6 linked regions of the Homo sapiens genome follow. The protein of the gene in region 1 purifies or fractionates together with the protein of each later gene. This does not show direct contact. Each region holds a gene or a part of one and is shown in the gene's direction. Other genes may lie near its edges.

Evidence for each region.
Region 2: the proteins of ZMIZ1 (region 1) and MAML1 purify together in Homo sapiens (affinity purification with mass spectrometry, with the first as the bait; one study listed by BioGRID). This does not show direct contact.
Region 3: the proteins of ZMIZ1 (region 1) and RBPJ purify together in Homo sapiens (affinity purification with western blotting; one study listed by BioGRID). This does not show direct contact.
Region 4: the proteins of ZMIZ1 (region 1) and ZEB1 purify together in Homo sapiens (affinity purification with mass spectrometry, with the first as the bait; one study listed by BioGRID). This does not show direct contact.
Region 5: the proteins of ZMIZ1 (region 1) and ETS1 purify together in Homo sapiens (affinity purification with western blotting, with the first as the bait; one study listed by BioGRID). This does not show direct contact.
Region 6: the proteins of ZMIZ1 (region 1) and SETD4 fractionate together in Homo sapiens (co-fractionation; one large-scale study listed by BioGRID). This does not show direct contact.

Annotation. Positions count from the first base shown.
Region 1 is NC_000010.11:79,309,823-79,313,663, forward strand, and holds part of ZMIZ1 (zinc finger MIZ domain-containing protein 1), read left to right. Parts: intron 1-1,101; coding exon 1,102-1,362; intron 1,363-2,819; coding exon 2,820-2,927; 3' UTR 2,928-3,841. UniProt on the Homo sapiens protein: Acts as a transcriptional coactivator. Increases ligand-dependent transcriptional activity of AR and promotes AR sumoylation. The stimulation of AR activity is dependent upon sumoylation.
Region 2 is NC_000005.10:179,739,165-179,743,005, forward strand, and holds part of MAML1 (mastermind-like protein 1), read left to right. Parts: intron 1-3,841. UniProt on the Homo sapiens protein: Acts as a transcriptional coactivator for NOTCH proteins. Has been shown to amplify NOTCH-induced transcription of HES1. Enhances phosphorylation and proteolytic turnover of the NOTCH intracellular domain in the nucleus through interaction with CDK8.
Region 3 is NC_000004.12:26,432,219-26,435,423, forward strand, and holds the end of RBPJ (recombining binding protein suppressor of hairless), read left to right. Parts: 3' UTR 1-2,705; downstream 2,706-3,205. UniProt on the Homo sapiens protein: Transcriptional regulator that plays a central role in Notch signaling, a signaling pathway involved in cell-cell communication that regulates a broad spectrum of cell-fate determinations.
Region 4 is NC_000010.11:31,503,968-31,507,808, forward strand, and holds part of ZEB1 (zinc finger E-box-binding homeobox 1), read left to right. Parts: intron 1-3,841. UniProt on the Homo sapiens protein: Acts as a transcriptional repressor. Inhibits interleukin-2 (IL-2) gene expression. Enhances or represses the promoter activity of the ATP1A1 gene depending on the quantity of cDNA and on the cell type.
Region 5 is NC_000011.10:128,482,885-128,486,725, reverse strand, and holds part of ETS1 (protein C-ets-1), read left to right. Parts: intron 1-579; coding exon 580-657; intron 658-1,654; coding exon 1,655-1,903; intron 1,904-3,841. UniProt on the Homo sapiens protein: Transcription factor. Directly controls the expression of cytokine and chemokine genes in a wide variety of different cellular contexts. May control the differentiation, survival and proliferation of lymphoid cells.
Region 6 is NC_000021.9:36,043,429-36,047,269, reverse strand, and holds part of SETD4 (SET domain-containing protein 4), read left to right. Parts: intron 1-1,258; coding exon 1,259-1,688; intron 1,689-3,300; coding exon of another isoform or gene 3,301-3,313; coding exon 3,314-3,488; coding exon of another isoform or gene 3,489-3,511; exon of another isoform or gene 3,512-3,586; intron 3,587-3,618; coding exon of another isoform or gene 3,619-3,683; exon of another isoform or gene 3,684-3,841. UniProt on the Homo sapiens protein: Protein-lysine N-methyltransferase that methylates both histones and non-histone proteins. Via its catalytic activity, regulates many processes, including cell proliferation, cell differentiation, inflammatory response and apoptosis.

The DNA of each region.
Region 1 (3,841 bases):
GCCAGGCTGCTGTTCCAGTGGAGCACCTGGAGCATCCGTGAGCCCCTCTCACTGGCAGAGCGAAAGTGGGGCTGGGGGCTGTCAGGGATGCTTGCAGTGGGATCAGGGCTTGGTCTGCGAGGATTCCCCGGCCTTTCACTTTGAAGGAGGATCTGCTTGGGACAGCAAACAGGCTAGCAGGGGAATGTTCACATCTCACCCACCCACCCACAGACAGCCCAGTTTTCAGTGCACGTGCCCACAGGAGGGTGCGAGTCCTCTAGTTATCTGTTAGAGAGGCACCGCCAGCCTCACCCTCAGCAAGACACCCACCATTGGTGAACCGTCACTCAGTCTCCTTGTCCTTGGAGTCCCAGAGGTGCCTGCCTCCCTCACAACCCTGTGTTTTTGAGGGCTGGTGCCGACCAAGTGGGATGTCTAGGAAAAGGGTCTGGCAGGGTGTGAAGATGCCCCTGGCTGGCCAGGTGCCCACCCAGCCCTGCTCCTCTGACAGCCAAATTCCACCCGCGCTGCAGGGCTTGTGCCAAGGCCCCAGCTGCTCCACACTTCGGACTGGCAGAAGGCGCCTTCGTACCCAGCATCACCCCTGCCCAGGGCCCACTTGGGAGGTGCAGACCCAGTCCTGAGCCGCACGCCCGCCCAATGCTGTCTGTCTGTGTCTGCTCTCTGCCGCCCAGCTTGGGATCTGCACCACGCTGAGGCAGCCGCCCTCCTGCCTCCCGCTCCCCGGAACATGCCCATTCTGCTTCTCCATCCTGCCCTCGCTGTTGTTCGTTGTCTGGGCGGGGAGGTGGAGGGGCCTGGGGGAGCCCAGGCCCAGCTCCCCGTGTCTGTGCTTGTGTCGAAGCCCTCCCCACCTCCTGGGGCTCCACGTGGCCCGAGAGGTCCCCGCCGTCCCCCTGCAGCCTCCCTGATGGGCGGTTTTGGGGGAGAAATTTTTCTTTGTTTCTCTGCCCAGAAACAACGTTCAGCCTCGTACCGGGTGGCCACGTTTCGGGGGTTGTGACTTCCCTGGTTGTGTTGGGTTTCATTTTCTCCAGGCATCATCGCCGTGCCTCCTCACCTCACCTCTCTTCTCTCCCGCTCTCTCCTCCTCCACAGATGCCACACGCTGGCAGCTCTGACCAGCCCCACCCCTCCATACAACAAGGTTTGCACGTACCACACCCCAGCAGCCAGTCAGGGCCTCCATTACATCACAGTGGGGCTCCTCCTCCTCCTCCTTCCCAGCCTCCCCGGCAGCCGCCACAGGCCGCTCCCAGCAGCCATCCACACAGCGACCTGACCTTTAACCCCTCCTCAGCCTTAGAGGGTCAGGCCGGAGCGCAGGGAGCGTCCGACATGCCGGAGCCTTCGCTGGATGTAAGTTGGGGTCGCCACTCGCCTTGGCCTGGGGCTAGGCCTGGCGCCGGGACCTGCCCGAGAGAAGGGGTGGGTGTGAGGGCTCGAGGCCCCGAAGGGAGGAGGTGGGTGGGCGGTGGGAGGGCTTCACCCAGACCTGGCTCCAGACCAGGAAGCCCCATGATGGGGAAGTGTCACCACTGAGGGTCCCCACCCTGCTGGCTCCTGTCCCCCCAGTCCCTTTGGCCATAGCCCTGAACCCCAGCCCTGACCCACCTTCTGACCCAAGCCCTGCGGGGTCCCTTGCGCAGCACAGGAGGGTCCCTGCCCTCCCCCGATGGTGAGCTTGCGGTTTCTGTGTCTGCCTCTCTGGCCCGGGCAGGGAGGGCTGGAGGGAGAGGCCGTCTGTCTGCCTCGCTGGTGTGTGTCTGTCTCCAGTTTTCTTGTCCGCGTGTTGTCCATGCCCTGCTTCTGCTTGCTCCATCGCTCACTCCAAGAGGCCCCCATGTGGGTGACAGAAGGTGGGGGCAGAGGGGGCAGCCTTGGGTCACAGCCAGGGGCAGCAGGCCATCATGGGCAGCAGAGGTGCCAGGGCTCCTACCCTGAGGTCTGGAAGATGGTGGGGGTCACCCTGGATGATGGGGCTGGGCTGCTGGATGGGGCTGGCGGGATGGGACTGAGCACCGGCCCCGCCCATGCCTACACAGAGCTGGTGCCAGACTCCGGGAGGAGGCTTGTCCTCGGCCCCTCCTGTTCTTCACCCCCAGCCCTGCTCTGTCAGCCTCTGCCCTGCAGCATCAGAGGAGCTCTGTGCTAGCTAGGACTCACTCACTGTGCAGCCATCTCAGGTCCTTGCCCAGTGTTCCCCCTCAAACCAGGCCAGTGGGGCTGCTTTTAGATGCATGAGGCTCCCCATGTGACAGACTCCAAGGATATCTCAGTAGAGGGTAGAGACAGTCTGCATCCCCTCCGGGGCCACAGGGAAGGATGGCTGCCAGCCAGCCACAGGCTCACCAAGGAGTGGCGAGCCCTTGAGAAGAGGGATGTTGGGGGGTTGGGGGCGGTGCAGGAACCACTCGCCTTCCCGCCTTCCCACCAGCCCACCTCCTTGTGCTTACACGTGAAGCATGTGATTTCAGCTGGGAGGCCCAAGTGACCTGCCATGGGGCCTTCCCAGGTTAGGGCTGAAGTCCATGCCTGAAAAGGGTCAGCCCTGCTCAGGCCTCAGCTGGTGGGCTGCGGGTCCCAATCCTGAGGCTTGAAATGAGCATGGGGGTGCCCCACACTCGGTGCAGTGGCCGGGGTATGTGTGGGGATACCTGGCAGGCCCAAGCCCAAGGCTGTTCTCTACCCCTTTTTTTGGCTAGGGTCCTGAGAGGCAGGTGGAGGGGGACGGGCCAGGGCGCCCCTGCATTCCTCACCCGGGGCCTGCCTCTCAGGCACACCTCATCTGAACTTCATTACTCCTTCTTTTCCAGCTCCTTCCCGAACTCACAAATCCTGACGAGCTCCTGTCTTATCTGGACCCCCCCGACCTGCCGAGCAATAGTAACGATGACCTCCTGTCTCTATTTGAGAACAACTGAGGGCCACCCGGTCGGGGCCATCCCTCCACACTCTGCATCCTACCCCACCTACCCAACACACTTTTCCACCTGGGAGCCTGTGCCCTCAGACCGCCCCGCACCAGAGCCACGGGCTGTGGGGCGGGGAGCCCTCCCCCGCTGCAGCCCTCTCAGAACAGAGGGGTAGGGAGGGTGCACCAGTGCACCAGGAAGGCTGTGTGGGTCTGGAGCCCACGTCCCACCTCCACACCCTTGGCTTGGGCCCATGCCCAGCGCAGGCCTGAAGACCACCCTCCCGAGAGGAACCAGCCCGGTAAGAGGGCACACGCTGATGCGGCTTCCCGGTCCCTCCGCGTGTGCCGATTCCAGATGACCTTCCAGTGTCCCCAAGGTTCTTCCATCTTCTAGACTGTAACCCTGCCTCCCTGCTTCCTGGTCCAGAGCCTCCCTCCAGTGACTGTGGAGCCTGAGAAGGCCCCCGGGCCCCAGCATGGGCCCCGAGCCTTGGAGGAGCACTGGCAGTTGGTGGCAGTGAGACCAGCCCACCCACCACCACCCACCACAGAAAAGCACAAACCTCTGGGAAAGACAACGTCTCTCGGGGGCCAGGGGTCATCGGTTTGACCCCTGACCTATAAGCCAAGATACCCCATAAACACACTCAGAAAGCAGAGAAAAAGGACAAGAGTCTGTGTTTGAGAGGGGGTCTGCCATTCCTGCTTGGGGACTGGTGGGGAAGAGGGCCAGGACATCTTCTGAGCCAGGACGTCCCTGAGGCTCCACCTCCAAGCTCAGACAGGGCCCAGGCTTGGGGAACAGAGAGAGCAGGTGTACACCCAACCAAAGTGATTGTGCCCTTGGTTGGGGGGCGCGGGCATATAACCTGTCAGAAGCAAACAGGAGCGGCAACTTCTAACTTTGCTCCAAGCCACTCT
Region 2 (3,841 bases), on another chromosome or scaffold:
ATAGAAAATATTTTTTGGAAAAAAAAGTAAAAAAATAACAGTACAACAATTAACACAAATTATAATATGCAGCTCAGCATGGTGGCTCATGCCTGTAATCTCAGAACTTTTGGGAAGCTGTGGTGGGAGGATAGCTTGAGCTCAGGAGTTTTAGACCAGGCTTAGCAATATAACAAGACTCCATCTCTCAAATAGAATAGAATAGAACGGAACGGAACGGAATAGAATAGAATAGAAAAATAAAAATAAAAATATAGCTGGGTATGGTGGCTCACACCTGTAATTCCAGCACTTCAGGAGGCCAAAGCTGGTGGATTTCTTGAGCCCAGGAGTTCAAGACCAGCCTGAGCAGCATAGTGAGATGTCATCTCTATAAAAGCATGGTGGCATGCATCTGTATTCTCAGCTCCTCGGGAGACCGAAGTAGGAGGATTGCGTGGGACCGGGAGGTAAAGGCTGCAGCGAGCTATGATTGCGCCACTGCACCTTAGCCCCTGGGTGACATCCAAACCCTGCATCAAAAATAAATAAAAAATAAAAATATGACAACATTTACATAGCATTTCTATCATACGAAGTATTGTAAGTAATCTAGAGGTGATTTAAAGTATCCTGGAAGATGTGTATATATTATTGCAAATACTAGGCCATTTTATGTAAGGGACTTGAGCATCCTTGGATTTTGGTGTCCCGGCGAGGCTGGGCAGGGGTCTTAGAACCAATTCCCCATGGACACCAAGGGAACTGCTGTGTACAGTAGCGAATAGGACAAATTAAAATTCTGCTGTCATGGAGAAAGAGGAGGTCAATATTTTTGTTAACTTTGTTATAATAAGTGCTAAGCAAAAATTAAAAGCAGAGTCATGTGATACTAAATGACAGTCGTAGCTTAAGATGCCTTGATTTGAGCTTGATGATTGAGAGGCTGTCAGTCAGCTGAAAGTCTTAGAACATTCCAGTTAGAGAGAACCACCAGTACCAAGTGTCTGAGTTAGGACCCTTCTGAGCTGGCATGAAGAACAGAAAGCAGGCCAGTGTGTCTGGAGCAGCGTGGCACCTAGGACCAGATCAAGTGCAGTAGGAAGCAGTAGCAGGATAGGGAGCAGAAACATGATATGATCCAACTTAGGTTTTTTTGCTCTGCTGACCAGTCTGGAGTGCAGGGGCGCAATCTCAGCTCACTACAAGCTCCGCCTCCCGGGTTCACGCCATTTTCCTGCCTCAGCCTCCCAAGTAGCTGGGACTACAGGTGCCCGCCACCACACCCGGCTAATTTTTTTGTATTTTTTTTTTTAGTAGAGACGGGTTTCACCGTGTTAGCCAGGATGGTCTCTATCTCCTGACCTCGTGATCCGCCCATCTCGGCCTCCTAAAGTGCTGGGATTACAGGTGTGAGCCACTGTGCCCGGCCGATCTTTAAGTTTTGGAAGATGGTTCTGGTGCTAGGTGGAGGATGCCTGGGGTTGGTGTGGATAGGAGTGGATGCATATAAAGCTTTTGTAGCTCTCTAGATGCCAGGGCTGGGGCTGGTGGTAGCAGTGGAGATGGAGAAGAGGAGATGGGTTTTGGACAGTTCCTGAGGGCAGAGGTGACAGGACTGGGTTGCTGGACTAGATGGCTTTGTTTTGCGGGCAGGAGAGGGGAGTATTCAAGGGAAATTCCTAGTTTTATGGCTTGAGAAACTTTCTTTGCACTTTAAAAATATTAGTGTTCTCTAGGCAACTATATCCCTGGCCATTTTCACTCTTTTTTTCCCCTGGGTGATGTTATTGATTCTTTCATAGCTTCATTTGTCACCTGTAATAATACTCTTCAAATCCCCAGTCCAGATCTGTCTTCCAGATTTCAAATCCACATTTCCAGCTGTCTGCTGGACATTTTCATCTTTCCAGGATATATTTCCCACATATCCAAAATGGACTTTCCCTTTTTCCTACCAAATCATATGTTCCTTCTAAGTATTTTCCCTAACCCAGTCATCCAGAGTAAAAACCTGGGAATTTTCCACTCCTTTTCCACAATTCCCAGCGTTCAGTTGGTGGTTCTTTCAACCAACATTGAAGTCCTGCTGGAGCCAGGAATCGTGGTAGATGGTGAACCTGTATCGCGGAGCCTAAGTGGGAGCAGATGATACACAGGTCATTGCAAAGCCGAGTTCAGGGCTAAAGCCTGTGAGAATATTGAGGAAGGGGGATGCCTTTTTGGTGAAGTTTGGAAGGCTTTAAAGAATTGACTCTTGGCCAGGCGTGGTGGCTCACGCCTGTAATCCCAGCACTTTGAGAGGCTGAGGTGGGCGGATCACTTGAGATCAGGAGTTCAAGGGCAGCCTGGCCAAAATGGTGAAACCCCGTCTCTGGTAAAAAATACAAAAATTAGCCGGGCACGGTAGCATACACCTGTAATCCCAGTTACTCAGGAGGCTGAGGCAGGATAATCACTTGAACCCAGGAGGTCGAGGTTGTCGTGAGCTGAGATTGTGACATCGTACTACAGCCTGGGTGGCAGAGCGAGACTGTCTCAAAAAAAAAAAAAAAAAAAAAGAATTTACTTTTAAGGTGGATCTTAAGCTTTAGCCAGATGCTTTCCCCAGAGGTGTTCCATGGAACACTAATTTCATGGGCTGTTGAAAGTTACAGTGGAACACATTTGAGGAACACTGGGCTAAACAATTCTTTTTCCCTCTGAGCATCTGCACATATTGGCTAAACAAATGTATTTTATTTTTTAAATTTGTTTTATTGATTTATTTTTTGAGACAGAGTCTCCGTCTGTCGCCAGGCTGGAGTGCAGTGGGGTGATCTCGGCTCACTGCAACCTCCACCTCCTGGGTTCAAGCAATTTTCCCACCTCAGCCTCCCAAGTAGCTGAGGCTAATTTTTTGTATTTTTAGTAGAGACGGGGTTTCACCATGTTTGCCAGATTGGTCTCGAACTCCTGACCTCAGGTGATCCACCCGCCTCGGTCTCCCAAAGTGCCGGGATTACAGGCGTGAGCCACCGCACCTGGCCAACAAACTTAATTTGCTTTATTAAGAACATTTTTGGCCAGGCACGGTGGCTCATGCCTGTAATCCCAGCACTTTGGGAGGCCAAGGCGGGTGGATCATCTGAGGTCAGGAGTTTGAGACCAGTCTGGCCAATATGGTGAAACCTCATCTCTACTAAAAATACAAAAATTAGCCGGACGTGGTGGTACGTGCCTGTAATCCCAGCTACTCAGGAGGCTGAGGCAGGGGAATCCCTAGAACCTGGGCACCGGAGGTTGCAGTGAGCCGAGATCGTGACACTGCACTCCAGCCCAGGCGACAGAGTGAGATTCCATCTCAAAATAAATAATAAAAAAAAAACCAACATTTTTGCCACATTCAGTGTCTGACACCAGTAATCCCAGCATTTTGAGAGGCTGAGGTGGGTGGATCATTTGAAATCAGGAGTTCGAGACCAGCCTGGCCAACATGGTGAAACCCTGTCCCTACTAAAAAAATAAAAATAAATTAGCTGGGCGTGACGGCACACACCTCTAATCCCAGGTACTTGGGAGGCTGAGGCAGGAGGCAGGAGAATCACTTGAACCCAGAAGGCGGAGGTTGCAGTGAGCTGAAATTGTACCACTGCACTCCAGCCCAGGTGACAGAGCAAGATTCCATCTAAAAAGAAAGAACATTTCAAATCTTTAATATGCGGCTATGCATGAAGACATGAGCTCTTATCAGGTGGTATTTAATAGGACTTTGATTTCCTTTAGGGCACTAAGCAAAAGCACTAGTAGTTCTTTGAATTTGGGACTTAAAGGCAAGAAGGTGAGTTAGGTCATGAAAAGCCTTATATTTGAGACTGGGTGT
Region 3 (3,205 bases), on another chromosome or scaffold:
TTTATTATCTTTACTTTTTTGGGGGGTTGGAGGGGGTAGCCTAGCCAGAACATCATTGTAATCTTAAAACATAAGATGCTTTTATTAGATGATCAACTAAAATAGCTGGAAGACAGTACTTTAGAAACAGATAGTTGTAAGATTATAAAATGCAAATGTAACTTATGTTTTCATTTTTTTCTCTGCCTTTTTTGTTTGTTTGTTTTCTCTTTTCCAGTACTGAGCATCTCCACAAATGTCTCCTAACTCAGAAAATGTTTCTTTTCTTTTCAGTTGAGATTTGGTTGCATTCAGGGTTGTAGGTTGGCCTTGCTTGCTAACCCCGCCGGTTTTACCGTGCTTTCATTCCTGAACTTTGTTTATGCCTTTGTTTGGTTTCTTCGAAATTGCAGCAGACTCATTGGGCTACATTTAGTACAGGAACCACGTGTGTAATGTTATACAACACAGTCTAGTAATACAATCATCCCTCTTAGAGTAAAAACTACCTCTAGATTGTGGTAAGCTTTTACTGTCCCATAAAACAGGAGCCACAGTACCTTATGAATGCAAAACTGTAACTTCCTACAGTGTTTCCCTACAGAACATTGTCTTTCTGGTGTCCTGGGCTGTTTTGAAAAAGTTTCCATTAATAGACTTTTTAGAAATTATTATTAGTAGCATTTTTTTTCCAGCTTTGCTGTCTTCATCACTCACTCTATGCTCAGACTATGCCACTGTAAATATTCTTCCTAACATCTTTAAATCGCCTTTTCCTCAGTTTTCAAGGGGAAGGTCATTTGTAAAGCACGTTAGGTGGTTAAATCAGTTATTGCGGTTTTCTCTTACTGCAAGCCTTTTTAATCACCCCCAGGCTGCATTTTATTCTATATCGCCTTTTTTCTTCAAATCTGCTCCAATCACTCACTTCTCTCTTATAAGCTAATCCTGCCTCACACCTTAAATCTGTTTCAGTGATCAAGGGCAGAACTCATTGTGGCCTTATCTTTCTTTGTTGTAATTGTTCACTGTCTCTTTCTTACAGACCACTTATTTCTGAGTAGTAGTTATTCCTCTCTATGGAGTCATGGCAGGAATCATTACACAGTGCTTTTGTTCAGAGCATGGACATGTTCCTAGTGCTGCTTTGCTTTAACGGCCACAAGTTTCCTCCACTTCCTAGGTTTGGTATTTAGTTAAGGAATCATATTAAATTAACCAATAACAAAAGAGATACTTTTGAAGAACAAACTATTCCTTACCCATTTTTGTAGCTCAAAAATAATTTTTCAAGTTCATGACCTTATTAAAATGAACTTGTGTTTTTTTAACAAACATGTATGTTTTATTTTGATAGTTTCTTTCCGTAAGATAATTGAAATATTATACTGTAAACCCTTTTCTTTTCTTTTTTTGAAAAGTCCAAGAATGTACTTATACAGGCATTTTTCCCCACCTATTTTTGGCCATTCTCATACCACAGACTAAAGAGTGAAATGATTTGTCCATTGTAGCTTATTGTTTATCAGTAGTTCTTTTGTCAGCTGCTTACATTTTTTCTTTCATGGTTTTGTGAATCATTTTCAGTATGTAATTTATAGGAACCTTGTCCTCTGGTTATAGTAGACTGTGTGCCCTCCTCCAGTGATGGCATTATTAGACATGCTGGTCATTTACCCTCAGAAAGACTCTCTTATTAGAATGGTGAGTGCTTCAGTTATAGTATGTTTGAATTTTTAAAAAATTCTGTTTTAGAAATGTATCTTATGCTCTCATGACTATGCAGTTTCTAAACATACACATAGAAGCTGAGTCTCTGATCCAATATGTTTTTATTTGTTCCATTTAATTTATCACATAGATTGGGAAGGCAAGCTAAAAGCCTTAAAAATGCCCTTTATATTTTGAGTGATTTCAGCGTTGAACACTAGTATACTATCTAAATTTGCTGCTCACTTTCTTTAAACTGTGGCAATTAAAGGCATGTTTATACATGACTTAATCGTGAAATGTTTGTCACTCTTACTGCACAGACTTATCTGCAATCATAACTGGTTAGTTTTTTTGTTTTGTTTTGTTTTATTGTTTTTAATGAAACTGGTACCATCTGTGCTTTCACAAAAAACTTCCAATGCCATTTTTGAGAACTAACCTAACTAGTCATGCTAACCAGAAAATCCACTGGGGAGGAGGTTCCTTTTGAAACAAAATGCTGTTCAGTTAGTAACCAAGTTACTTTGATTGCAAAAGCAGCTGTGTTTCTGATAAGTACTGAACAAATGTGTGTAATTTTCTGTGCCAGACTTATGACTTTGTTTTCAAGCACTGTAATGTGGGATGGATGGTTAGAAACAATAATATATTAGGGTTTCTGTTTAACCCTTTCAGGACTGAACTGTATCTCCTTTTGTTAATTTTCCCCTGTGTTGTGATAAATGTTTGCCAGCATTCAGTACTGTGTTGGTCCAGATGTAGGTTTATATGCTCATTTTTAGCTTATTTCTTGTACCTTGCAGCATGCTCTACGCATTCAGTCCTTAAGGGGTTTATTTTACAAACTGTGCGCCTGTAAGGTTTATTAGCAATAAGATAGAAAATTGAGCAAGTTTATACCATAATTTTGTAGAAAAAAAGAATCTGCTCAGTTCCATATTTCATCCGTGAAAAACTTGCAATACGAGCAGTTTCAAGGAATAAATAAAAAGGAAATGTAAACCATTGTAAAAGTCTTCTGTCGAATGTGCCTGATGCATGTATTATCGTCTTTTATTTCAGAATACTTCATAAAGATAAAATTAAATTCTATATTATAGTTGGTGTATTTACAATCTTACCATGTACATCACATCAAAGTGATAGCTCTACTAATTTAATTTCCTTGTCAATGTTTTTAACTATATAGTGCTTTAAAGAGATTTTTTTTCCCTGTGTAAATGGTGAAATGGGCTTTGTCACTCAAGGGTCATATCTCTCAAATCAGAATCATTTAAAGCTGATTGCAACAAAATTTGAGAATATTACTTAGCAATAACTTACTTTTCCAATATAAGATGGTCATTTTGTCTGCTATAGGAAGGAACACATAATCGTTTGCCTTTGAGGGGTGGGGGTGGGTCCTAGAAGTGGGGATAGTATTCTTTAATATGAAACAAAGTTAAATGGGGAAGTTACATAAGTTTTTTTTTTTGAGACGGGGTCTTGCTCTGTCGCCCCTGAGCTGGAGTGC
Region 4 (3,841 bases), about 48 Mb from region 1:
CAGATGAGTAATTTGCAGATATTCACTCTGTTGTTTCCTTTGCTGAGTCTTAGCAATAAAGTCTTTGCCTACCCAAATGTCCTGAGTGTTTTCTGTATGTTTTCTTCTAGTTTTATGGTGTTGTGTCTTATGTTTAAGTCTTTCATTGATCTTGAGTTGATTTTTGTATGTGGTGAGAAATAGGAGTCCAGTTTCATTCTTCACATGTTAATATTCAGTTTTCCCAGCACCATTTATTGGAGAGTGTGTCCTTTTCCTGGTGTATGTTTTTGGTGCCTTGTCGAAATCAAATGGCTGTTAATAATGTGGATTTTATTCTGGGTTCTCTGTTCTCTTCCACTGGTCTGTGTGTCTGTTTTTTACTAATGCCATGCTGTTTTCCTTACTGTACCTTGTATTATATTTTGAAGTCAGGTAGTGCGATGTCTCCAGCTTTGTTCTTTTTGCTCAGGATTGCTTTGGCTATATTGGTCTTTTGTGGTTCCGTAAAAGTTTTAGGATTGTTTTTTCTGCTTCTGTGAAAAATGACATAGATATTTTGATAGGGATTGGATTGAATCTGTAGATCGCTCTGGGCAATATGATCATTTTAATGATGTTAATTCTTCTGATCCATGAGCATGGGATGTCTTTCCATTTACTTGTGTCTTCTTCAATTTCTTTCATCAATATTTTGTAGTTTTCCTTGGAGAGGTCTTTCACCTTCTTGGGTAAATTTATCCCTAGGTATTTTACTTTTTTGTAGCTACTATAAATGAGATGGTCTTCTTGATTTATTTCTCGTCTAGTTCATTATTGGTGTACAGAAACACTGCTGATTTTTATGTTGAGTTTTGTATCCTGCAACTTTCAGTTTATTTAGCAGATTGCAGTTTTTTGGTTGTGTCTTTAGGTTTTTCTAGATATTAGATCATATAGTCTGCAAAGAGAGACTATTTGACTTCTTTTCCAAATTGGATGGCTTTTATTTCTTTCTCTTGCCCAATTGCTCTGGCTAGGACTTTCCAATACTGTGTTGAATAGGAGTGGTGAAGGAGTGGAAATCCTTTTCTGATTACACTTCTTAGAGGGACGTCTGTCAGCTTGTTCCATGCAGTATGCTGTGGTTCTGTCATATATGTCCTTTATTATATGGAGGTGAACCATCTTTGCATCCCTGGGATAAATCCCACTTGATCATATTGCATTATCTTTTTGACGTGCTGTTAGATTTAGTTTGTGAATATTTTTTTGAGGATTTTGTATCTGTTGTCATCAGGGATATTGACCTGGATAGTTTTCCTTTTTTTGTTTCATCTTTCTCTGGTTTTGGTATCAAGATAGTGATGGACTTATAGAATGAAGTAGGGAGAATTCCCTCCTCTTCAGTTTTTTGGAATAGTTTGAGGAGAACTAGTGTTAGCTCTTCTTTGACAGTTTGGTAGAATTCAGCAGTGAACCCTTTCAGTCCCGGACTTGAAATATTCATTATGGATTCAATCTCATTACTCATTATTGGTCTGTTCAGGTTTTCTATTTCTTTCTAATTTAATCTTGGTAGGCTGTGTCCAGGAATTTATCCATATCCTCTAGGTTTTTCAGTTTTTTCATGTATAGTTGTTCATAATTGTCTCTTTTGTATTTCTGTGGTATCATTTGTTAGTCTTCTTTTTCATTTTTTATTTGCATCTTCTCTGTTCTTTTCTTAGTCTAGCTAGTGGTTTATCAGTTTTGTTACCTTTTCAAAAAAACCAACTTTTTGTTTTGTTATTTGTGTTGTTTTTTAGTCTTCATTTCATTGATTTTGTTCTGATTGTTATTATTTCTTTCCTTCTTAAATCCTAATTTAGGGTTTGCTTTGTTCTTGCTTTTCTAAGTTCTTGAGGCACATTGTTAGATTATTTGAAATGTTTCTATTTTTTGTTTTAGGTATTTATTGCTATATACTTCCTCTTAGTGCTTTTGCTATATTTCATAGGTTTTGATATGTTCTGTTTTGATTTTCATTTAAAGAAATTTTAATTTTAATTTCATTTAAAGAAATTTTAAATTTTCCTCCTTATTTCTTCCTTGACCCCGTGGTTATTCAAAAGCATGTTGTTTAATTTTCATGTGTGTGTAGAGTTTCCAAAGTTCCTCTTATTATTAAAATCTATAGTTGTATTACTTTGTGGTCTAAAAGCTACTTGATATGATTTTGATTTTTAAAAATTTGTTTGAGACTTGTCATGGGTCCCAACATACAGTCTATCCTAGAGTATGTTCTGTGTGTTGATGACAAGAATATGTATCCTTTAGTAGTTGGTTAAAATGTTCTGTAAGTGTCTCACATCCATTCGGTATAAAATGCAGTTTAAATTCAGTGTTTCTTTGTTAAGTGTCTTTCTACATGATCTGTCTAATGCTGATAGGGGTGTTGAAGTCCCTAACTATTATTGTATTAGAATCTGTCTCTCCCTTTAGATCTAATAATATTTCCTTTATATAGCCAGGTACTCCAGTCTTGGGTACATATATGTTAAGAATTGTTATATCCTCTTACTGAATTGATTCCTTTGTCATTCTTTAATGACCTTCTTTGTCCCCTTATACTGTTTTGTTTACTGGATTTAAGAGTTTATCTCATTATAGCTACTCCTGCTCACTATGGTTTCCATTTGCATGGACATCTTTTTCTGTCCCTTTACTTTCAGTCTATATGGATCTTTACAGGTGAGATGAATTTCTTCTAGGCAGCACATAGCTGGGTCACAGTTTTTATCCATTCAGCCAATCTGTACCTTTTAAGTGGAAAGTTTAATCCGTTTATGTTATTATTATTGATATGTTAGAGCCTATTTCTGTCATTTTGATTTCTGGTTGTTTTGTGTATCATTTGTTCCTTTCTTTCTTACTGATTATTATTGTGGTTTGATAGTTTTCTATAGTGGTAACATTTGAGTTCTTTCTCTTTCTTATTTGTACTTGTTCTACCAGTGGATTTTATATTTTCATGTGTTTTCATTATGGTAGATATCTTCCTGTCACTTCCATGGATAAGACTCCCTTAAACATTTCTTGTAGGGCCAGTCTAGTGGTCATGAATTCTCTCAGCTTTTACTTGTTTAGGAAAGACTTTATTTCTCTTTCATTTATGAAGGATAATTTTGCTGGGTATGATATTCTTGGCTGGCAGGGTTTTTTTCTTTCAATACTTTGAATAAATATATCATTTCTTTCTCTCCTTGCCTATAAAGTTTCTGCTGATAAACTGCTATTAGTCGTATGGAGGTTCCCTTACAAGTGATTGGACACTTTTCTCGTGTTGTTTTTAGAATATCTCTTTGTCTTTTACTTTTGACAGTGAATATAATGTGCCATGGAGAAGATCTTTTTGAATTGTATCTATTTGGGGGTGCGCTGAGCTTTCTGTATCTGGATGTCTAAATCCTTTGCTAGACTTGGGAAATTTTTGGATATTATTTCATTAAATAGGTTTTCTATCCCTTTTGTTTCCTCTTTGCCTTATAACACATCAAAAATTCGAATATTTGGTTACTTTATAGTTTCTTATATGTCACACAGGCTTTGTTCATTGTTCTTTTATTCTTTTTTCTCTTACTAGGTTATTTTAAAAGACCTGTCTTCAAGTTCTAAAATTCTTCTTCTGCTTGACCTAATCTATTGCTGAAGCTTTCAGTTGTCTTTTGTCTTTCATTCGGTGAATTCTTCAATTCCAGAATTTGTTTAGTTCTTTTTTATGATACTTACCTCTTTGGTAAATTTCTCATTCATATCCTGATTTGTTTTTCTGGTTCCTTTGTGTTGCTTTTCTGTTTTCTTCTATCTCACTTAGCTTTTATAAGATCATTATTTTTAATCA
Region 5 (3,841 bases), on another chromosome or scaffold:
CAAGCGCAGTCGCATTTCACCAAATGGAGTCACCTTACCAGTGTCCTGCTTCTTGTCTGGGCCTGAACTTGAAACCTGAGGGCAATGGGAAAAATACAAAACAAAAACCAGACATCTGTTAGAGGAAATGGAGAACGTAAAATCTATGGCCTAAAGACTGCAATATATTTTTGAGAAATTTTGAAATTGATTAGTTTGGGGGTTGGGGATTGATCCTGCTAACCTGGGATGTACTCAAGCCTTTGGCTATAGTGTGGTCGACATACACGCAGCACGAATGCATTGAGAATGAATGCTGAATGCCTTCTGAGCCCTTAGAGATTACTCATGGATTCTCTTTCCAAGATACTAAATCCCATTTTGCAGCTACTGAAATAATAACCTTAGTCATATTTTTTTGATCTCATCTTTAGACAAGGCCACAGTCAGGACAGACTCAGATACCAACCCAGTTAATGAGTATGCAGATTTCTTAGAAAAGGGGTTGAGATCATTGTGGTCTTTGCATCCAAGATCCTTTTAGGCCAAGCATGACTTGAATATTGACCTCTTTGTTCCTTCCCTATCTGTTCATTACAGAGGATGTGAAACCATATCAAGTTAATGGAGTCAACCCAGCCTATCCAGAATCCCGCTATACCTCGGATTACTTCATTAGTAAGTTCATTTCTACCCCTCTTCTCTCATGATAATAGCAAACTAGGAAAAGACCCCTATCTCAGTGAATCTCAGGCTCCTTCATGGTAATTCTATCAAAAATAATATCTTCTTAGATGTAGACTCTTCTTTGTTACTTTATTTTATTATTTTCCACAAAGCACAAAGTTTCAACCTATATATATGTTTCATTAACCTACCAAGTTCCTACACACTAGGATCCTTCTCTGATGTCTTCACCTGAAAGTCATGCAGAGAGACTGCAACTAGACCCCTAAACTTTTGTTCCTATTTGATACTGTGCACTACGATGGCCAAAAGAGGGTTGGGTTAGGGATTTGATCTTGGTCTTTGTTCTTTCCTTTTTACTAGTGGAGATAACAGCATTTCCTCCAAAATCCTTCTTTAAGAGTGTGCTATGCAGCTTCAAATTCTATTATAGGAAATACAGTCTTCTCCTTTTTCGTGTAAGATACCCAACCATACTGAAGAGATGGCCTGAGGGAAACAATGAATGTAGGCCTGTTGCACTAATGTAAGCTCTGAGATATAGGACCATCTTATCTGATGGCTGTGCTTTTACAGGGAATATGAAACAGGTTTTATTTTTTTCGTTTTATCTTTTTACGTTATTACAATTTTTATTCCAGTGACACAATGATATTAACTACTCTGTGTCAAGAGCTTATTGTGTGGGGAATGTTGGTGGGCATTTGACCTCTATCCTCATTTCATCTTCATCACAGTGCTCCGGGAAAAATCGCAATCACCCCCATTTTAGAGATGAGGATATGAAGTCAGGAAATCAATTACCTTGTCAAGGGCTAAAGCTGTTTAGTAGTGGACAAGGTTAAAAATGCAAGCTTTTCTGATTTAAAGTATTTTCCCTTATTCTCTAAGGAGCTTGTCCCACATCATAGGGCCCTGTAGATGGTGAAAACTGCTTATTTTAGGTACAAATCTCTCCTCTCTTTACTTGCAAACCCTTTGTTTCCAGGCTATGGTATTGAGCATGCCCAGTGTGTTCCACCATCGGAGTTCTCAGAGCCCAGCTTCATCACAGAGTCCTATCAGACGCTCCATCCCATCAGCTCGGAAGAGCTCCTCTCCCTCAAGTATGAGAATGACTACCCCTCGGTCATTCTCCGAGACCCTCTCCAGACAGACACCTTGCAGAATGACTACTTTGCTATCAAACAAGAAGTCGTCACCCCAGACAACATGTGCATGGGGAGGACCAGTCGTGGTAGGTCATATTTCTTCTCTAAAAGCTCTTGGGTTTACAAGAATTACCTGACTTTGTGAGTTTTTTTCAGGTTCCATTTTTTTTTTCTTATTTATTAGACCTGTAGATTCCTCAGTTTCAGCCTTCCCATCTTAGAGTGTCCAGATACTAAGAACTTTCCATCGTGGTGTTTTAGCCAAGTCCATTATTATGACAAAGGCCATGGGGTCCACAGTGAAATCAAAATCAGGCAATCTAAGAAATTAAATATCTTACTTGGGCAAAATGTTTTACTCAATAACTCTAGTTGAATTTGGTCATTTTGAAAGGTATGCTCTATTTTCCTTGAGGAGGACATAATCAAGTAAAAATGGTTCAAGTGGCCACCCTGGAAAACCCTTAAGCTTAGCATGTGTCCTGGTGCTCCTCCCAGAGGACTCCTGGGTCTGACTGTAGATCCTAGCTGGGTACCTGGAATGACCTCTGCTGGCCAGCCTGGGATCTTTAGCCTCCTGTGACTTTTTCGGTTTGGGAAGATACAAGATGGTTAACCAACGGTTTATTTGGAACCAGTCATCAGCAGTGTGGTGAAGTGTGTATTTAGCTAGAGGACCAGGGACGGAGGTGGCCAGGGGTTTCCAAAAGAAGGTAGTTTTGTTAACGTGACTATTATAATAGTGATAAAATATTCACTGTCAGGGAAGAAAGTGTTTAAAAATAGAGCTGGGTGACATAAAGCAAAAAAGGTAAAATGCACCCAATTTTTAGGAACAGGACATAAACACTCAGAGGTACAGCCTACCTAGTAAAGTGTCCAGATTGTTTTGTTTCTGAGAAAAATGCAATCTATTGTAAGAAAGGGTTTGTCTATTTAGCAAGAGCTAGATGATTTCTAAAAAGGTGAAAAACCTGACTTTTCTGGTGGGTAAATGGGAAAGAATTATAAATGGGAAGAGGAACAGGAGAAAGCTGATCAAGCGGGGCTTGGGTCAGATGTCAGGCTGGGGCTGGCCTATTAGTGATTTCTGCTCAATGACTGACCATATGCGGTGCCTATTGTGAGGCTCTTGGAGGAGAGCCCAATGGTACCTTTACTTTGAAGAATCATGGGTCATGCCCATTGTCGTCTTCTTCGAGTATTCAGACTCACACTTCCTCCTAGCAGGCCTAGGGATCACCAACAAGCCCTGCAGAGGGAAAGTCCCTGCAAAATCAGAACCCCTAATCTTCCTTCTTAAGGCCCCAGGGTGTTAGTGTTTCAGACCGAAGGGGATGGGTGGGACCAGTCGGCCTTCCCCTTTCTGGCTCTTTTTTATTTTTGGGTGCATGTCTATTTAAATACATACACACAAGTGTGTGTACATGTGTTTCTTTTTTATCAGGCGAGTCAAAGCATTAAAACGACTTTCTTCCTTGTGGGACTTTCTGTACATCTACACAGTGAGGCCAAGCCTGTGGGTTTGGGCTCAGCCATGTTGTAACTTTGGGTCGATCTCCTGTCACATTGTTTTGAAATTGCATCTGGCTTTGCATTTGTGTAATTGTCTCTTTCCCTCTCCTTTTCTTCATTCTTGGTTTTGGTCCCTACCACCCCTCCAACCCCAAACTAATGACTGTGGACCAAAAGTGACCCTTACAAGGAGACATGAGGTATTTCTTTCTGGCTCCACTCTTCTTCCCTCCCTCCAAGTTCAGGCCACAGAAACTTGAGGGGAAGACCATTTTGTGCAGGGCTGTTTTCTGCATGTTAGAAGTGCTGCAAACAGGGCCTATGCAAAGGGCCAATTGATTCTGAGATGCTGTGATTGGTCTAGACCGAAAGCATTACTGTTAGCTGATTGTTATTTATACTAACCATAGTACAGTATTCACGGGCTGCATTACAGCGTACAGAGTGCTTCTATGCCCCACTTATTTGGGCCCTAAGGACTGTCTTTGTACGAGTCTACTCAGTGGGTG
Region 6 (3,841 bases), on another chromosome or scaffold:
TTTTCTTTCTTTTTTGAGACAAGGTCTTGCTGTGTTGCCTAGGCTGAAGTGCAGTGGCGTGATCTTGGCTCCCTGCAACCTCCACCTTCCGGGTTCAAGCAGTTCTCATGCCTCAGCCTCCCAAATAGCTGGGATTACAGGTGTGCGCCACCATGCCCTGCTAATTTTGTATTTTTAGTAGAGATGGGGTTTCTCCATGTTGGTCAGGCTGGTCTCAAACTCCTGGCCTCAAGTGATCCACCCACTTTGGCTTCCCAAAGTGCTGGGATATAGGCAAACGGCCACTGTGCCTGGCGTATACTGTCTCTTAACCATTAGGTAAGTGCTGGTCTTTTTTCCCCCTGGCATGTTTTTGGAAGAGAGTGAATAGGTCTTTTAGGCCTGTGTAGAGACAATGATGCTGTCATTGTTAACATTTTCTGAATCATTCTGAAATTTTGAGTAGAATGTATGGCAGTATAGGAATCTGGATGTCGAAGGATTGATGAAAACTTTCTAAATACATTCAGGCAACATGAGATCTTTTTATCGGCAATTGTGCAAGTAAAAATACTGTGATACATAATTTGTAATAGAGCAGGTAAACTTAGGAATAAAAGCTTTAGAACTGCAACAACTGTATATGAGCATATTCAGTTTTGGTTTAGGTTGGTGCCCTCCAATAGAGCTTTTAGCAATGACAGATGTTTTTTATGCATTGTCCAGTATGGTGGCCACTAGCTCTGAATGGCTATTGTGCAATTAAAACATAGCTTATCTTACCAAGGGATTGAATTTTAAATATTCAATTCTAAATAATTAAAGGTTAAATTTAAATAGCTCTGTGTACCCAGTGATTACTATATCGGATGGTGCAGGTCTCAGTTCTTTCCACCATTTTTTCCCCACCATATTTTATATCTTTACATAGGTGAGACAAATGGACTTAGGTCAAAAGGTTTACAACTGGAGAACCAAGTTGGAAGCAAAGAGGTTTTTTTGCAAAGAGGAATCTCTTGCAAACAAACCTGGAACTTGGCTTAGTGAGTCAGTTTTTCTGACATGTAAGTATGGCTCTTTCAGAGCACTAGCACTGGGGCTGTGCTCCCCTGGAGAGGAAGAGCCTTAAGGAAGGAAGGAAGGAACTCTTGAGTCTGTTAAGTAAACTGAGTGTGTTGACAGTTTGAACACACTCCTTCTGGCAGCAAAACAAACTGCTTGGCTTATTTCGTATTTTGAATCAAAGTAATTCCTTTAAACTGGCTTTTAATTTTCAAAGGTGGAAGCCTCCTCCATCTCCTCTGCTGGCGCTGTGCACCTTTTTAGTTTCAGAAAAGCATGCTGGGCACCGATCTCTTTGGAAGCCTTACCTGGAGATTTTACCCAAGGCGTATACCTGCCCTGTTTGTTTGGAGCCGGAAGTGGTGAACCTTCTTCCCAAATCTTTAAAAGCAAAGGCTGAAGAGCAGAGAGCCCACGTGCAGGAGTTCTTTGCTTCCTCCAGAGACTTTTTCTCTTCTCTGCAGCCTCTGTTTGCGGAGGCTGTTGACAGCATCTTCAGCTACAGTGCCCTGCTGTGGGCTTGGTGCACCGTCAACACCAGAGCCGTGTACCTGAGGCCCAGGCAGCGGGAATGCCTTTCTGCAGAGCCGGACACCTGTGCACTCGCTCCGTACCTGGACCTGCTGAATCATAGCCCACATGTCCAGGTGAGAAGCTGACAAGGGAGCAGCTATTCTATTTGGATAGGAAGGCTTCCGCTGCCCAGAACCTGTGGCTGTAGATGTGGGTGGCACCACAGGGAGAGGTGTCGGCGGCTTCAGGTGACCCTGTCAGGTTGGCCTGACGTCAGGAGGCTCCTGTTGTTCTTCTAGACCCCACTATCCCTCCCGCAGTGCTTGCCTTGGCCCCTTTTCTTCACTCTGCTCTTCAGGCCTACAGAGCCTCGTGCTGCATCCTCTGTCCGGTCTTTCCCAGCAGCCTGTGGTGCGGAGCCTTCCTTCCTTCTCCCTCGTTCCTCCTTCCGGGACTGAAGCTTAGCTTGCTTTCCTGCCCCGTCCCTTTTAAACTGGTGTTGTAGCTGTCACAGCATTTCTCTTCGCTCTGATCGCTGACTGACTTGCTCTTTTTCCCACTGAGCTCTGAAATCTTTGAGAATGGGGTCTTTGTCTTGTTCCTCTTTGTCACCTCAGTGCTCATGGCAGGGCCTGGCACATAGTAGGTGTTCAGTAAATGTTTATTGAATGGATGGGTATTTGTGGGGAAAGGGTTCTGGGAAATAATGAAAGAAACCTGATTTGGGAGGTGGTCACAGATCGCCTCCTCCCCAGCGCTTTCCCCAGGTGGCTCATTTAGGAAATGAGTGTATTTGCAGGGCATGCAGGGGTAGAGGCCTGGCTTGGAGAGCGGAAGAGAGTCCATCAGTTGGCTCACCTGTAACCACTTTGGGGTGTGTTGTGGAGGGACATGGCTGGGATCTGTGTCCTGGCCGTCGCCTTCATCTGACATTCCACTGGAGAAGAGCAGCCATGCCTTGTGAGCCCACGTGCTAAGCTTTCGTGCTCTCTACGTGAGATCAGAGCTTAGGGAGGTTCCCGCTCTGCTTTCTTAGCCCAGGAACAAGGGCTGTCTGCTTGTTACTTTTGTAGAAAGAAGTATCTTTAATAATCGGGAGCAAAGGAGCCTGGGATTAGGTGAGTGTTTCTGTGGTTGATGTTGACGAAATAATATCAGGAGTGTGTAGTGTGATAGGATGCTAGACATGGGGACTCCGTCAGCAGTGATTTATTTTTATTGGGACTTTTGGTGCATTTATGTGCCAAACCAATGAGTTTATAGTTTACTGTAGGAAGACCACAGCACGAACTACAGCCTGTGGGCGTGTGGCCCAAGAGCCCTGAGCTAAGAATGGTTTTTACACTTTGAAAGGATTGTGAAAATACAACAACTTGTGACAGAGACCACATAGTGCTGGCAAAGCTGAACGTATTTACTCTCTAGCTTTTTACAGATAAAGTTTATTGGCACCACCATGTCCTCCTTCCCTGGGCTGTGAGTGGACGTGACCAATAAACTGCTGATGATCTCATCTGTGCTGTGTCGGGTGTCGTGGTGTGGCCACCCCCAGAGCCCTAGGGCAGGACTCCCTCCGTCATCAATGGGGTGAAGTCGAGGTGGATGAAACCGGAAGTGGCATTTTCCCTATGCGTAGTTACATTTATTGATGGGTGTTTGAAAGCTGCACCTGACTCACATTAATATTATGTAATAACTTAATCAGCTTTGGAGTTTTACACCTTACTTTAAAAAATACCTTAACAGTTTTTCTTTCTAGGTAAAAGCAGCGTTTAATGAAGAAACTCATTCTTACGAAATTAGAACGACTTCACGTTGGAGAAAGCATGAAGAGGTATTCATCTGTTACGGCCCTCACGATAATCAACGGCTGTTCCTGGAATACGGATTTGTTTCTGTCCATAATCCTCATGCTTGTGTTTATGTCTCAAGAGGTTGGAATCAACTTTGTTCTTAACATTAACACTATATAATTTTTTTCCCCATTTGGAGATGTGTATTTTCAGTTTTAATAAAAATATCAAAACCTTAAGACTGACATACATATCACTAATTTTCTTCTAGGTAGGCCTAGCCTTACTCTTACTGGCTGTAATTTCAGTGTTGAAGTAAAAACAACGAAGTTTTGACTGATATTTTGAGAAGTTTTCATTGCATTGGGTCAGAAGATAGAATGGAAGAAAAGGAAAACTGCTAAGGAAATAAATACAGTATTAAAGGATGGAAATGTTTATACTGAGACGTTGTCACTGGCACTAAAGAAAATAGGATTAGAGAGCAATGAATA